Homo sapiens: one gene and its partner. The protein of the gene in region 1 interacts with the protein of each later gene in a pairwise test. Each region holds a gene or a part of one and is shown in the gene's direction. Other genes may lie near its edges.

The links.
Region 2: the proteins of TBC1D20 (region 1) and ADRA1A interact in a two-hybrid assay, tested with the Homo sapiens proteins (one large-scale study listed by BioGRID and IntAct).

Annotation. Positions count from the first base shown.
Region 1 is NC_000020.11:442,034-445,566, reverse strand, and holds part of TBC1D20 (TBC1 domain family member 20), read left to right. Parts: intron 1-436; coding exon 437-517; intron 518-3,523; coding exon 3,524-3,533. UniProt on the Homo sapiens protein: GTPase-activating protein (GAP) specific for Rab1 and Rab2 small GTPase families for which it can accelerate the intrinsic GTP hydrolysis rate by more than five orders of magnitude. Also shows GAP activity for RAB18 GTPase.
Region 2 is NC_000008.11:26,768,276-26,770,793, reverse strand, and holds the end of ADRA1A (alpha-1A adrenergic receptor), read left to right. Parts: intron 1-127; coding exon 128-645; 3' UTR 646-1,985; downstream 1,986-2,518. UniProt on the Homo sapiens protein: This alpha-adrenergic receptor mediates its action by association with G proteins that activate a phosphatidylinositol-calcium second messenger system. Its effect is mediated by G(q) and G(11) proteins.

The DNA of each region.
Region 1 (3,533 bases):
TGCTCCCACAACTTTATAGGCGTTAGGGTTTTTTTCAGTGGTCTGTTGTTCCCACATTCATGATTTTATTTGATCCTTGGAATATCCTCATTTTGTAGCTGTGGACTTTGAAATTCAGAGCAGTTCCCAGTGATGCACAGTGGCCTTCTGCACGAGGCGCCTGGCCTCCTTACGTCTTTGCTCTCCTTCCCACCCTGCTGTATTGTCTCCTGGGCAGTCTGTGCTCCCTTCTCTTAGGGTCATTGTGACTTGCAGGAAACATAATGTTTGGAACCAAACTAGGGATTCCCTGCCAAATGTTGTATCTTGAGTCATATCATCCTCTTCAGGAGAAGCTGACATGTGCCCTCTAGGCCTTTTGTGTCATCCCAGAATGTTTTGCTTCTGGTCTGGCTTCTCAGGCATTCCTGCAATAACGTGCCTTTTCCTTCAATAGGGAAGAACCTACGGCAGATGAGCAAGGACTACCAACAAGTGTTGCTGGACGTCCGGCGGTCATTGCGGCGGTTCCCTCCTGGTGAGAAGCTCTCCCGGTCCTGCCACATTTGGAAAGACTGTATCTGTTCCAGGTCATACCATGTGACCTAATATGCTGGACCCTGCCGCCTCAGGGACCTTCAGAGCTCTCCTTTTGCTGAGTCATCCTTTTCTTGACTGGTCACTTTCAGACCCCCACTGTGAAAGCCTGAACCAAAAATAATTTCTCCTGGCCTAGAGGTGGTGAATGAGAGAAGAGGTTTTTGTTTTTCCTTGAAGCCACAAAAAGGAGTTAATAAGGATTGTTAGAGCCATCAGTCTGGCATTAAAGAGCAGATTGGTGTGGAATTGGGCACCAACAAGAATGAGTAATATCTTAATTAGGTTTAAAAACGATGGTACCTTGCGCATACATATGTAAGATTCCTTAGAGGGAAGAGAGGCCATTCCCTGTTTGTGTAAGAGTATATTCCTTAATTAACAAATTAAGCAGCAATAGATAAAAAAATAAATAAATAAAAACAAAACAAACAAACAAAAAAGAATGTATTCCTAAAATTACCTCTTTATTTCAGGAAGAAAGAAAAGAAGGACCGTTGTCTCAATTTTCACAGTGAAGGGAACTGGGCAACAAACCTCACATGGATGACCTATTTTTCTTCCTCTGGCAACTCCACCTTTAGGTCATGAAGAGAGGAGAATTGCTAAAGGGAACAGGAGCCTCTAAGCTGGCTGCCTCCCTCTTCTGCACTGTGCTCTGGCCTGGCTTTTGTTGTTGAAGGGGCTGCTTTCCTGCTGGCATTCTTGCTCCCTGGACAGATTCTTGCAATACCCAGGTAGCAGTAGCCTGCCAGCGTGGTTTTGATAAAAGCACATGCCCACGGTCCATTCCCTTTTCCTAGCCTGCTGGTTTGGATGAGATCATATAGGACAGATGCCTCCCTTTTTTTTTTTTTTTTAAAGACAGAGTTTCACTCTTGTTGCAGGCTGGAGTGCAATGGCACTGTCTCAGCTCACTACAACCTCCGCCTCCCAGGTTCAGGCAGTTCTCCTGCCTCAGCCTCCCAAGTAGCTGGGATTACAGGTGCCCGCCACCACGCCCAGCTAATTTTGTGTGTGTGTGTTTTTAATAGAGATGGGGTTTCACCATGTTGGCCAGGCTGCTCTCGAACTCCTGACCTCAGGTGATGCACGTACCTCAGCCTCCCAAAGTGCTGGGATTACAGGCAAGAGCCACCCCCATTTTTTCCTAGGTAACCTGTTTTCCCTCTGAACCCTTTATTCCTCTTCCATTGATGTAATATCTGTGATACGCTTTCTGTAGGCTGAACTTACAGTGTGGCTTCATATTCTTTTTCCATTCATGGTCTTCTGGGCTTGGCTCACTGCTTTTCTGCTGAAAATTCACACAGGGTTTAATTTTTACTCTCACTCCTTTCACTGCTTCACCTATCAGCAGCCCTGGGTTTGCTTCGTTTCCTTATTTATCTTTTAGGGTATGCTTTTTATTTGAGAAGGGGTGGGGTAAATATGGGCAAGAGGTGAGTTTTGCTCTTACCTGCAATCCTTTGTCCGGTTTAGTTTGGGCCCTTACATTAGCTGCTTTCTCTCTCTGAGTATGTGTTTGTAACTGAAAGCTAATGGTGTGGAGAAGCTGTGCATGTGCCATTCTTCTAACCTGGCTCATAAGGCCAAGGCATTTTTACTGCTGGCAGCACTAGCTCCAGCAGTAAAAGAACTCCCTGAAAGAACTCCTGAGACAGGCTTCCCTATTTCCAGCTATAATACATCTTTGGATCAAGAGGATCAGTTTTTCCTGTAACGTTTGCTTTGGTTTAAAGGGGACCGTGTAACTTTAAAATTTTTTTATTTTTATATAATTTCATACTTACTGAAAGGTTGTAAAAATAGGACAAAGAATTCCCCAGATACCTTTTACCCAGATTTCCTTTTGTTTTCACATTTTACTACATTTGCTTTTTTTTTCTTGGAGACGGAGTCTTGCTCTCTCGCCCGGGCTGCAGTGCAGTGGCACGATCTCAGCTCACTGCAAGCTCTGGTTCCTGGGTTCATGCCATTCTCCTGCCTCAGCCTCCCAAGTAGCTGGGACTACAGGCGCCTGCCACCACGCCCAGCTAATTTTTTGTATTTTTTATTAGAGACGGGGTTTTTCACCATATTAGCCAGGATGGTCTCGATCTCCTGACCTCGTGATCCACCTGCCTCTGCCTCCCAAAGTGCTGGGATTACAGGCGTGAGCCACCGCGCCTGGCCTACATTTGCTTTTTTAGCTGCTTTCTGTCTTTCCTTCGCTTTACACATAGACATACACTTTTTCTCTGAACTATTTAAGAGTAAGTTGCAAACATGACATCTTTTTACCCCAAGTGTTTCAGGACATATTTCCTAAATATAAGGCTCTCATGTAATCACAGTACACTGAGCAACATCAGTAACAACACTGAAAAATAGTTAACTAATTAATCCACAGATTTTATTCACATTTCACCATTTCTTCGAGTAATGTGCTTCACTGGAAAAGGAAATATAGATTTATGCGTTTCTCATGCTGTTGTCCTATATCTTTAGCCATTTTTAATCTGGAACAGTTCCTTTGTATTGTATGAGAGTTAAATTTCTCTTCCTTTGGGGATATTGGGTATTTCTTCATTGTGAGATTGAGGTCTGTGCGCTGTTGATAGAAATCCTGCAGACATGATGCTGAGCTCTGTCAGTGCATCACCTCGGGAGGCAGAGGCCGTCTGTGGCTCCCATAGTTGAAATTCTGCAGTTAAATACTGTGTCCCAGCAGTATTAACTGCAGCAACTTGGTTAGGGTGGCATCTGCAGCTTCCCCTACTGGAAAGCTAGCAGCTGCCTTTTCCTGTATGCCAGGTGGTATCAACAGTGGATCTTGATATGCGTTGCCAAATTATTTGTAATTCATTTTCCTTTTTTCTCTGAAAATTCATTGCTGGCCTTCTTCGACCTCCTTGTTAACTAGGCTGCTTGGTATGTTCAAAGGCATCTCTGTTCCTGTCCCCAGGCATGCCAGA
Region 2 (2,518 bases), on another chromosome or scaffold:
ACTCATATGTGTTTGGGATCATTTTAACCGTTTAAAAATACAGAAAGATGTCTGTTTGATTGTTTTCCTAGCCAATTGGCTTGCTGGCTTTCAAATAATATGTATAAATCTGTGTGTTTTCTTCCAGGGTCTTTCTTCCCTGATTTCAAGCCCTCTGAAACAGTTTTTAAAATAGTATTTTGGCTCGGATATCTAAACAGCTGCATCAACCCCATCATATACCCATGCTCCAGCCAAGAGTTCAAAAAGGCCTTTCAGAATGTCTTGAGAATCCAGTGTCTCTGCAGAAAGCAGTCTTCCAAACATGCCCTGGGCTACACCCTGCACCCGCCCAGCCAGGCCGTGGAAGGGCAACACAAGGACATGGTGCGCATCCCCGTGGGATCAAGAGAGACCTTCTACAGGATCTCCAAGACGGATGGCGTTTGTGAATGGAAATTTTTCTCTTCCATGCCCCGTGGATCTGCCAGGATTACAGTGTCCAAAGACCAATCCTCCTGTACCACAGCCCGGGTGAGAAGTAAAAGCTTTTTGCAGGTCTGCTGCTGTGTAGGGCCCTCAACCCCCAGCCTTGACAAGAACCATCAAGTTCCAACCATTAAGGTCCACACCATCTCCCTCAGTGAGAACGGGGAGGAAGTCTAGGACAGGAAAGATGCAGAGGAAAGGGGAATAATCTTAGGTACCCACCCCACTTCCTTCTCGGAAGGCCAGCTCTTCTTGGAGGACAAGACAGGACCAATCAAAGAGGGGACCTGCTGGGAATGGGGTGGGTGGTAGACCCAACTCATCAGGCAGCGGGTAGGGCACAGGGAAGAGGGAGGGTGTCTCACAACCAACCAGTTCAGAATGATACGGAACAGCATTTCCCTGCAGCTAATGCTTTCTTGGTCACTCTGTGCCCACTTCAACGAAAACCACCATGGGAAACAGAATTTCATGCACAATCCAAAAGACTATAAATATAGGATTATGATTTCATCATGAATATTTTGAGCACACACTCTAAGTTTGGAGCTATTTCTTGATGGAAGTGAGGGGATTTTATTTTCAGGCTCAACCTACTGACAGCCACATTTGACATTTATGGGGAGAGGGCCTAGAGAGGAAGAGCATTAAGATGGTGGCCGAGATCCAGACACATTATTTTTAGAGCAAGTCCTGAAACTCCACCCTTTCTGATACATCCAATTTCTCAGCTTGAGGGAAACTTGGCAGTGAGGTTTACCTTTGACTGCACTTTGAATGGATGCTGCTCCTCATTTCCCAAAGATGAGAGTGAGGGGCACTCATGATGTCTTGGAATGTAGTGTTCTCTATCCTTGGGTCAGGAGAGGGTTGAAAGAACCAACCAGGGTGGTATGGCTTTTCCCAAGAGAAAACAATAGACCTGAGCATCATTCTTTCAATTTAACTACTAGAGAGAAAATCCATTAAACAGTTCCAAGATCAGATGATGATAGGCTTTCTCTCTAATATCTTTAAAGAGCAAGAGGTTGGTGTGGCTGTTAATTTCTTGCAAAGATAGAGGCTGTTCACTTACTGCACAGCCATTTCAACATGGCTTACAAAAGCCTTTCTTGACAAATCACTTACCTGTTCCAGAACTCTGTTATGAAAATCCAGAGCTTATAATATTTTGAAAGGCAAAAGATTGTCTCCCATTACTTCTTATCTGCTTCACTATTGCATAATGAATGAGCTTCACCTGTGGCATGTTGGAATGAGCCTTATGATCCAAGTACATTATTCCCGAACTTTGAAAAATACTAATGCTTAGCTTCAGACAATACTGATGGATCACCAAAGAACTGTCTAACGCAGGAGTTTGCAAACATTTTTTGATAGAAGGCCATTTGTTCTGGTAAAAGATCCAGTAGTCAACTCAACTTCATCTATTCCTACTTTTCTGCAAGAGCTTGGGGAACATGCTATATTTTGCTTTATGTATACCAAATTTTGGTAAACCATAATAACTCAGTACAGAACTTGTGTATCTCTTTTCTGAAATGCCTGGAACCAGAAGTGTTTCAGATTACAGATTTTTTCAAATTTTGAAATACTTGCATATACATAATCAAATATCTCTGGGATGGGACCCAAGTCTAAACACAAAATTCATTTATGTTTCATATACACCTCATATGCATAGCCTGAGGGTAATTTTATACAATATTTTTAATTGACTGTTTTTGACTGCAACCCATAGACATGAGGTCAGGTGTGGAATTCCCCACCTGTGGCGTCATGTCGGTGCTCAAACAATCTCGGATCTTAGAGCATTTCGGATTTCAGATTTTCGGATTAGGGCTGCTCAAGCTATAGATTACTAAGGATGAAGATGGTAACTATAAGTAAAAATTAAAATATGGCTGTCTTTTCACAATAAGGATTTAAAATAGAATTTAAGTTTTTGGAATAATTCTCGACAACAATCAGTGGTCTAAAACTAAAGACCATTTGCCTGGCCTCTTTCCTCTATTAGGGTAATTTCCTCTAACAAATTCAAAGCAGCTGT